Linked DNA regions of Homo sapiens: all the other regions are reported to be linked to region 2. The links are microRNA targets in miRTarBase. Many come from high-throughput screens and were not tested one by one. Region 2 holds a microRNA gene; each other region holds the end of a gene's coding sequence.
The links. Region 2 holds the annotated microRNA hsa-miR-3197 (GGAGGCGCAGGCUCGGAAAGGCG, at 2,255-2,277, shown strand). A microRNA usually pairs through its seed, bases 2 to 8, with sites in the 3' UTR of a target mRNA and lowers its output. Matches are read on the target gene's strand: a 7mer-m8 pairs with bases 2 to 8, a 7mer-A1 pairs with bases 2 to 7 and ends in A, and an 8mer does both.

Region 1 (3,220 bases), not on the chromosome of region 2:
CAGAAAATCTACATGAAGACAGCAAGGGTCTTTTATTCCACATTGCATACAGTGTAATTTTCATTTTACTTCTAAGGTACTGTTTCATCTGTCTTCCCCACAGCTCATTAAGAACACTCAGACTTACACCTTCACCATCAGCCAAAGTGTGCTGGTCACCAACTTGAAACCAGCAACCATCAAGGTCTATGACTACTACCTACCAGGTGAGAGGGCTGAGCTGAAATGAGATCTGAGATCTTACCTGCATCTCCCAACTTACTTCTGCCTCATTCTTCATGGCTTCTCTCTTAATTTTACAAATACTCCTTCCCAAGCCAAGTAGCACATAATTAAATTATCTAATCTCCTAAAATATTTTAATTCAGTTGTGTGCCATTTTTAAGTTGCGTACACTAGAGACATTTTATGTGATCGGAGAACAATGTGAACCATTGTTCTCAAAGGGCTATTTCTATTATTTTTGGTATGATTAATAGTTTGTCACAATGTACAAATATTAGTGATTGAAACTTTCTTGTAATTCTGAATATGCTCATAACCTGTAGAGATTCTCTGGAAGGGGCTCAAGCAGTAGCTTTTCTGAAGCATTTTCCCTCTGAATATAGGAGGCCCTCAAAGTAATAATATGACTTATTTCATTTCACAGATGAACAGGCAACAATTCAGTATTCTGATCCCTGTGAATGAGGTAAGTCCAGCGGAGAAATGGGTGGAGTTATGGGTTAGGGTGGCAGAAGTTAAGAGGAGCCTCTTTTCGAGTTACTGTCATTGTCTTTTTTTGAGATAGAGTCTCGCGGTGTTGCCCAGGCTGGAGGGCAGTGGCGGAGGTTGAGTGGCTCACTTCCCAGCTTCAAGCGATTCTCCTGCCTCAGCCTCCTGAGTTGCTGGGATTATAGGCGCCCACCATGATGCCTGGCTAATTTTTGTATTTTTAGTAGAGACAGAGTTTCACCATGTTGACCAGGCTGGTCTCGAACTCCTGACTTCAGGTGATCTGCCCACCTCGGCCTCCCAAAGTGCTGAGATTACAAGCATGAGCCACCACACTCAGCCCTGTTATTGTCTTTTGGAAGCTATTGTTGATAGAAAGTGAGCTTTCCTTTTTTGTCTTAAACTTTTTTTTTTTTTTTAAACAGGATCTGGCTCTGTTGCCCAGGCTGCAGTGCAGTGGCGTGATCTCAGCTCACTGCAGCCTCTGCCTCCCAAGTTCAAGCGATTCTTGTGCCTCAGCCTCCTGAGTAGCTGGGATGACAGGCACGTGCCATCACGCCCAGCTAATTTTTTTTGTATTTTTAATAGAGATGGGGTTTCGCCATGTTGGTCAGGCTGGTCTCAAACTCCTGGCCTCAGGTGATCCGCCTACTTCAGCCTCCCAAAGTGCTGGGATTACAGGTGTAAGCCACTGTGCCCGGCCTGTCCTAAACTCTTGAAAATAGTTTACAGAAGAAAAAGCTAATGCTTGGTATTAAAACAATACTTTTTTCTATCAGATTGAAAATGGATTGATTTTTCCTGATATTTTTACATGATACATCTTTGTTATATGAAAATACTAAGACAAAAGTAAAGGTTACCTGATTCTACACCTGTGAGATAACACTATTAATAATCCAACTGTGCATTTGTGAGATTTTTTTGTATATATATAGAGAGGTCAAGTATCCTCTATGTATGTAATGAGCTTCTGAGTATCACAGTGTCTTCTATTTTTTGTTTGATTGTTCGCTTTTCAGGATAGGAGCTGGAAACTCAATTAGTCCTCTGTGACATTTACTGGAGGGTGGAACATTCTTCTGTCGCTTGAAGCAGAACTCATTCAATCAAATAATTTAATTTCTCTGACTAGTATATGGGTAACAAATGAATATGTCTGAACCTCAGCTATAATACTTTCTACTACCTTTGCAAGGAGATGGGATAGGAACAATCACTCAGAGGAGGCGTTGCATGGGCAGGGTCATAGGGGGAAGAAAGGTGGTTTAGCTGTTTTATTTAGCCATTCAGGGGGCTCTCCAGAGAGGAGACGGTGGTAGAGGGTGAACTAGAGAAGATAAGAATGTCTTCCTAGGCCGGATGCGGTGGCTCACGCCTGTAATCCCAGCACTTTGGGATTGCGAGGTGGGCGGATCACTTGAGGTCAGGAGTTCAAGACCAGCCTGGCCAACATGGTAAAACCCGTCTCTACTAACAATACAAAGATTAGCCTGGTGTGGTGGCACGGGCCTGTAATCGCAGCCCCTTGGAAGGCCAAGGCAGGAGAATCGCCTCAACACTGGAGGTGGAGGTTGCAGTGAGCTGAGATTGTGCCACTGCACTCCAGCCTGGGCAATGAGGCAAGACCCTGTCTCAAAAAATAATAAATAATAATAATAATAATGTTTTTCTAGAGTTTCAGTCTAAGGGAAAATGTGATTTAGGGCTTTGGAAATTGGCTAAAAAAATAAAAATGGAAAAGAAAATCTGTGCATTTAGTTCTATGCATATTTCTTTGGAAACCAAAAGTTCTTTTAAAGGTGATGATCATCCTTTCCCCCAAAACTCACAGTTTGGTTTCTTCCTTAAACCTTTTAACCCAGACTTCTCAAAGAATCATCTTAAAGATGTGAGGACAGGTTAGAATAGAGAATTTTAATTATGGGGCTCTGCTCAACCAGCCCGCTACTGCAGGGCAAACAGTGATGGATTACAAGAAAAGTGGCTGGCCAGAATGCCGTTTCCATCTCTCTCGGTTTCTCTTCTGCATGATTCTCCCAACCTCTCCCCACATGGGCTATCTATCACCTATCACCGTGCAAGCACTTCCTCAGAGGAATGCTTTTGTTTTGGAAACAGGTTTGGAGGCAAAGGGATAAGGGAAGTAAGATGAATGATATTTAACAGAAAAGATTCTCTAGGCAATTACACCCTTTTATCCTGGGTATCCACTGGATCCATTATGCTCCCCTTGATTGCAAATTCTGACTGAAAAGTCAGGGAAAATAAGTACATTCTACAAAAATAAAAAATGACAGATGGGACCTACTTAAACTAAAGAGCTTCTGCACAGCAAAAGAAACTATCAACAGAGTAAACAGACAGCCTAAAGAATAGGAGAAAATATTAACAAACTGCCTCCAGCAAAGAACTAATATCCAGAATCTATAAGGAACTTAAACAAATCAACAAGAAAAAAACAAATAATCCCATTAAAACGTGGGCAAGGGGCATGAGCAGACAC
Region 2 (3,252 bases):
CCCTTCTATTAAAAGGACTATGTGCAAACAGGCATGCCTGGAGGAAGCCAAGGACCACGATAAAGGAAAACAAACACCTTATGATTCATCTAACATAGGCCCGGTTACAATCGCAGGTGTAAAAGGAACTGGGAGCTGGCAGTGAGAGACAACAAACATCAGTGGAACATGGGATGGTGACTCTTTCTGGCTGAGCGCCACACGTTCCTACCAGGAATCTTCTATTAGTCATTTGGGCTGGAGAGTGAGATCCTTCCTCGCTCTCCACCGTCCAGGGTCATGTTTAATGGTGATGTTTGTTCTTTCCAAGGAGAGAAGGCCCATCTAATTGCAGGGCTTTTGTTTTCCTGAATGGACTCAGGAAGGCCATGGCTGAAAACGAGGGTGCTGAGAGGCTGTAAGGAGAAGGGAAGGAGTTGGAGGCTCTGGTGGAGTGAGGAAGAGCAGGGCAGTATCCCATGTCCTCTGATGTTAGGGGTGAGGTCAGGAGGGTGGGTCTCACCTTCTCCTTTCTCTGCCCTGCATCGGTCACCATGGTTTAAAAATCAATGCTATTCCATGAGAGGGCTGCCACTTATCATTTCAGTTCCAACACCTGGAAAGTAAAATTATTGTCTCCCAAATCCACCCAGCACCATAGGCTTGAATAGGGATCATATGCTCTAAGACCATTCATGAAAACAGAGACAACCAAGGAGACAGTCACCCAATGCTGTCCCTTCAGCTTGCATTATTTTCTGACAAGACAGCTCTGCCATCCATGGAAGCCTGTGTGCTCCTCCATCCCTGGATCTTTATGCATCCTTTTCCCCACAAACCCAAACCATCCCTCTTAAAATGAAAAGCTTAGGAATACTCACCCTAGACTGAGTCACGCGTTTCTTGTACAAACTTTAATTAGACTTGATTTTTTAAAAATTTCCCTTGTGGCTTTTAATTATTAGACAGAGCAAATGTCTCTAGTATTAAACTTATATGTCACATAGCCTCTTTATCAATGGCCCTAATACATTTCATGTGCTTTTCAGAAAGATTATATTCTTCCCAGAGCTGTCTGAATGTCTTTTTGAACCCCTCAAGACTGGACACCAAGGAGTATAAATAATCATTTTAAAAAAAATCACATTCCCTCCACAACCTTGAATCTGAAACGTGAATATATGAATAGAAGGGCTCTGGAATAACTATGCAGATTTATGGAGAATATCAACTTAAGTTATATCACGGGATCCAGCTATGCCTTTCTTCATGGAGTTGGGGATTTGTTAAAGTTGAGATATAGTTTGGGGGAAGTGTGATTTATGGTTAAAGTCATCTGAAAATCAATACATTTGAAGATCTCTGACATAAAGGTCCCTTGCAGAGCTAGACGTGATTCTAAAATTGGGAACACAGGAATAAAAATCAAATCTTGAGTAGAAGTAGCTGAAAATTGCAGTGATTCGGGGAAGCTTGGCTTCTAACTCCCCACTGTTTGAAGATGGGCTTGTTTGTTTTTTAAAACAGCCAACATAATTCAGCTGGAGGAGGTACAAAGAATTTTCTATTCCTTGTTTCTGTAGAAATCGATGGACTTTAGCTTGTCTAATTGTCCCCCCTGCCTTTAGTATCTAAAATAAAATAACCCTCGTTGCTTGCATTACTCAACGCATTTCTGCGTCTTGGCGTCTATGGCTAAACGAGTATTAATTAGACAGTCCGCAGAGAGCTGGCTGGGGATAGAAGGGGAGGTGGGGGAGAAGGGCAGGGATCACAGCAGGGTGGACTCGTGGCCCTGATTTGGGATCCTGACAGCAACTTACTAGGTGGCCTGAGGGCTGGGTGCCAGGGGAGGCAGCGGGTTCCAGTAGCATCTGACCTGCATTAGGGACAGGGGCGCGGCGGAGGGGGCGAAGGGGGCGGGGGTGGGGGGAAGGTGGCTGGGGTGAAGCCCAGCTTCGCAGCTAGCTGTGGGCAACAGAGGGAGTAAGGGGGGGCAATGAGGCTGGGGCCAGGCGCCAGCAGCAGCCACGCCCCCCACCTCCCCCGATTTTTAGGGAAAATTCTCCAAAGCTCTCGCATCCTCCTCTGCCTCCTTCCACCCTCCACCCTCCCAGCCTCCACTGAGACCTCTTTAAAACCACCCAGGGGCCGCCGGGGGATGAGGCCGGGGAACGGGCTGGACTGAGGGCGGGGGCTCGGGGGCAGCGGACGGGAAACGCCTCGAAAGCAGCCAGACCCGGCGACTGAAATGAGGCGGAGGAGCTTGGCGAGGGGAGGCGCAGGCTCGGAAAGGCGCGCGAGGCTCCAGGCTCCTTCCCGATCCACCGCTCTCCTCGCTGACCTCCGAGTCACCCCCGGAAGCTCCCGCCACTGCCGGGCGAATAGACCCCCGCGGACCCCCAAGCGCGCGGGGCCGGGGCCCTAGTTCAGGCCCTCGCTGCCCCTTTAAGGGTTCTCGAAACTTTCCCCCCGGTATCAGATGAGCCTCGTCACATCCGTTGGCCGTGGCCGCTGGGGCGCTTTCCGAGGAAATTCGGGACTCGAGTTTCCCGGGGAAGAGGCGCGGCCTGAGCCCGGCGAGGGTGGGGAGGGCAGGCGCAGGTGGACCCCGGCGCCCCCCGAGCCCCGCTGTGACCTTGGCCGCGGGGGAGGGGCTGGGCCGCTGCGGGGCAGTCGCGGCCGCCAGAGGGGGCAGCGGAGAAGAACTTGCCCAACTTGGCGGCGCGGGCTGGGGCGGCTCTGCGCCTCCGCGCCCGCCTCCCCGGCCTCCGCCTTCTCCCCTCCCGCGAGCCTCCTCCCCTCCCGCGAGCCTCCTCCCCTGGGCCCTCCTCCCGTCCTCCCCGCCGCCGCCGGTCCCGGTGCGCGCCCATCCCTGCCCGCAGCCCCGCGCGCCGGCCGAGTCGCTGAGCCGCGGCTGCCGGACGGGACGGGACCGGCTAGGCTGGGCGCGCCCCCCGGGCCCCGCCGTGGGCATGGGCGCACTGGCCCGGGCGCTGCTGCTGCCTCTGCTGGCCCAGTGGCTCCTGCGCGCCGCCCCGGAGCTGGCCCCCGCGCCCTTCACGCTGCCCCTCCGGGTGGCCGCGGCCACGAACCGCGTAGTTGCGCCCACCCCGGGACCCGGGACCCCTGCCGAGCGCCACGCCGACGGCTTGGCGCTCGCCCTGGAGCCTGCCCTGGCGTCCCCCGCGGGCGCCGCCAACTTCTTGGCCATGGTAGACAACCTGCAGGGGGACTCTGGCCGCGGCTACTACCTGGAGATGCTGATCGGGA
Region 3 (3,212 bases), not on the chromosome of region 2:
AGAACTGCTGCTTTTCAACAGGATCTGGAAGCCAAGTACCACGCCATGATCTCAGAAAATCGGCGTGCTGTCGCTCAGTTGTCCTTGGAACTCGAAAAGGAACAAAACAGAACTGCTAGTTACCGAGAAGCCCTTATCTCTCAGGGACGCAAGTTGGTAGAAGAAAAGAAGCTTCTGGAACAGGAACGGGCCCAGGTGATGCAAGAAAAAAGACAGGTGCAGCCTTTGAGAAGTGCGTATTTGAGCTGCCTGCAAAGGGAAGAAAACTGGCAAAGGAGAGCCAGGCTTTTGCTGAAAGAATTTGAAGCTGTTCTCACAGAAAGACAGAATATCTACTGCAGTCTGTTTCTTCCTCGCAGCAAGCGGCTGGAGATAGAGAAGAGCTTACTGGTGCGAGCGTCCGTCGACCCCGTCGCCGCTGACCTAGAGATGGCAGCCGGTCTCACCGACATATTTCAGCATGATACATACTGTGGTGATGTCTGGAACACCAACAAACGCCAGAATGGCAGACTCATGTGGCTCTATCTCAAATACTGGGAACTCGTTGTCGAACTGAAGAAGTTTAAGAGAGTAGAGGAAGCCATACTAGAAAAGTAAGACAAGAGTGAAATCAAACTGCTTTTAGTGACTCGAGGCCAGGCAGTCATGCGCCTTCTGGGTCTCCGGCGTCTTCCGTTCCCGTGCTGCCCGTGTCATGGCCACACCGTCACCCTTCAGCAGCGACCTCCACTCCCGCCACCGTCTGAGCAGAAGTGCACCGAAGCCTCAGAGACAGAGGGTCTCCTCCCGATGCTCTGCCGCTGTTGGGGATATGGTTTCTTGAAGCATTTTTAGGCTGCCAGTATTGTATTAAGCAGAACAGTATAACCTCGTATTTTAGCTCCAGGGTAAAAATGGTTTTTTAAAAAGTCAAATACAATACTGGTCCTTACCACAAGTAATTTTCTGTCTGTTTCATCACTCCCTAAATACTTTCTCCTCAAATTATTTTTCTCTGTCACCAGATTACATTAAGAATTTGTCAGATAATGTGTAGAACTGCATAACAGGTAATAGGAAGTAGTAATATTATATTATCAAGGGTTTATATTTTAAAGATCTCTCTCACTCCATAAAGGGGAAATACCAAGTGTTTCTTGTATCCAGTTGTTACTTAATGTGTGTTTGTTGTATGCAGTTGTTACCTAATGTGTGTTTGTTGTATGCAGTTGTTACCTAATGTGTGTGTGTTGTATGCAGTTGTTACCTAATGTGTGTGTGTTGTATCCAGTTGTTACCTAATGTGTGTTTGGAATTTGGCTTGTGTCTGTATTCAGCAAGCAGATACTTATTAGCAATGATATATACTCAAAATACTTGCCATTTATGAGTAATAATGCCACTTTTTGTGTAATTCTTCACTCTTTACAAAATATTTTTATATGTATTATCTCATTGTTTACCACAGCCAACAAGGTAGACAGGCACTTATCACCCCATGTCACACATAGCTACTGGGAATTGAGCCTGTATACCTGTTCACTCATGGAATCCTCAGTCGAATCCTGTGAAGTGAGTATTACTATTACGCTTTGCGGAGGTGCCCCAAGGCCAGCCCCCAGGTGCGTGACCTGCTGGGAGATCTCACAGGACTCAGCACAGGGTTGGACTCAGCACAGAGCAGAATCAGCAAAGGGAGAGGGTGTGTGGGTGGCGCTCAGAGGAGCCACGTGTGGACACCCCAGGATCCACTCCCTGGAGTCATACAGGACACACCTAACTATTAAGAATAAGCTCACTGGAGACTCAGCACCTGGGGCTTTTGCTAAGGGCTGGTCATGTGGTACCCCCTGCCTGGCCTGTGTGGGAATTCCCCACTTGTCCAGAAGGAGGGTGGGTTTGGTGTGGTCTGTGCCGTGAGCACAAGTACTGTGGTCACAGAGCCACGCGTAGGAGTTAATGGTGCTGGGAAGTCTCCCAGAATCCGAGTTCCCAGATGTCAGTCAAGGGCCAGCCTTGCACACAGGCCCTGGTAGGACACAGCCTTGGGCCTGCTGTGTGAATTCGTCACCACGCACCTCACTTTACGGAGATGTGGAAGAGCTAACCTGCCTGAGGTCACGCAGGTAGTAGTGTTGGAGCCAGTCTGAGCCCGGGCACCTTTTCTCCAGAACCGCGAGTAACCTGTGTGCAGTGATTTGATAGTGTGTGGCCAGGCAGGAGCGGGAGCAGGTTGTCCATCTGCTTTCAAGGGCCATGTTCTCCCCTCCTGCCCGTCTGTACGGGAGTAGGAGCAACTGTTAAAAATCCTAAGCTCATAGAGCCCACGTGGCAGTATGAGAGCCACTATTCATGGAGTGCATGTTCCACCCTGAGCTGTACACGCTTTACACGCATGCGTTGTTTGAAATCCGTGGAACCCCTTGAGCGCGGCGGAGGCGGGCTCAGAGCCAACATGCGCTGCCTGCAACAGACACGGGCCCCCTGCCATGCTCTGCTCTCGGCACCCACGCCCTGCTAAGGGTGCTCAGATGCTTCACCCAGGCAGGAGTGCAGTGGTGTGATGGCTAAGGGTGCTCAGATGCTTCTCTTCTTCAGTGGCTGCTAGCGTGCCTCTCTGCTCTACCACCATCGCTTTATCTGAGAAAAAGTCACTTTTATTTTCATTTTTTATTTTTTTTGAGAGGGAATCTCTGTCACCCAGGCAGGAGTGCAGTGGTGTGATCTCAGCTCACTACAGCCTCCGCCTCCTGGGTTCAAGCGATTCTCCTGCCTCAGCCTCCTGGGTAGCTGGGATTACAGGCGTGCGCTACCACACCCAGCTAATTTTTGTTTTGTTAGTAGAGACGGGGTTTCACCATGTTGGCCAGGCTGGTCTCGAACTGCTGACCTCAGGTGATCCACCGCCCCCACCTCGGCCTCCCACAGCACTGGGATTACAGGTGTGGGCCACGGCACCCGGCCCCTAAAAAGTCATTTTTTCGGTAAATCTGGACAAAACTCTTCCTGTTGTTGTTTGTACTTCCTGATGCATCAAGACCCTTGCCTAAAGAGCGGTGCAGGCTCCATTCCTGCGGCAATCCGGTCTGCTGGGTGTCCCTGTGTGAACCACTCCACGTTTGTCTTTAAATGAAGAAAACACAGTCAGCTGCTTTGTAGGTGAATGATTTTCGAGGCAAATTGTTAATCCTCATCCTGTTTCTAATGTCCAGTGTGCTGTCAGCCTAGCT

Region 1: the mRNA of A2ML1 is a reported target of hsa-miR-3197. Seed matches in the 3' UTR shown: 7mer-A1 at 2,266-2,272.
Region 3: the mRNA of CCDC127 is a reported target of hsa-miR-3197. The part of its 3' UTR that is shown has no 7-base or 8-base seed match.

What each region holds. Positions count from the first base shown.
Region 1 is chr12:8,874,322-8,877,541 of GRCh38, forward strand. It overlaps A2ML1 (alpha-2-macroglobulin like 1), which reads left to right. Exons shown (of 36, transcript NM_144670.6): 34 at 104-206; 35 at 650-691; 36 at 1,737-2,466. The coding sequence ends at 690. Among named protein-coding and RNA genes, the nearest start is that of PHC1, 39 kb to the right of the region's middle.
Region 2 is chr21:41,165,310-41,168,561 of GRCh38, forward strand. MIR3197 (microRNA 3197) reads left to right here and starts at 2,248; the gene lies at 2,248-2,320. It overlaps BACE2 (beta-secretase 2), which reads left to right and starts at 2,851. Exons shown (of 9, transcript NM_012105.5): 1 at 2,851-3,252. The coding sequence starts at 2,955. RefSeq lists a silencer at 2,410-2,859.
Region 3 is chr5:202,685-205,896 of GRCh38, reverse strand. It overlaps CCDC127 (coiled-coil domain containing 127), which reads left to right. Exons shown (of 3, transcript NM_145265.3): 3 at 1-3,212. The coding sequence ends at 600. Among named protein-coding and RNA genes, the nearest start is that of LRRC14B, 13 kb to the right of the region's middle.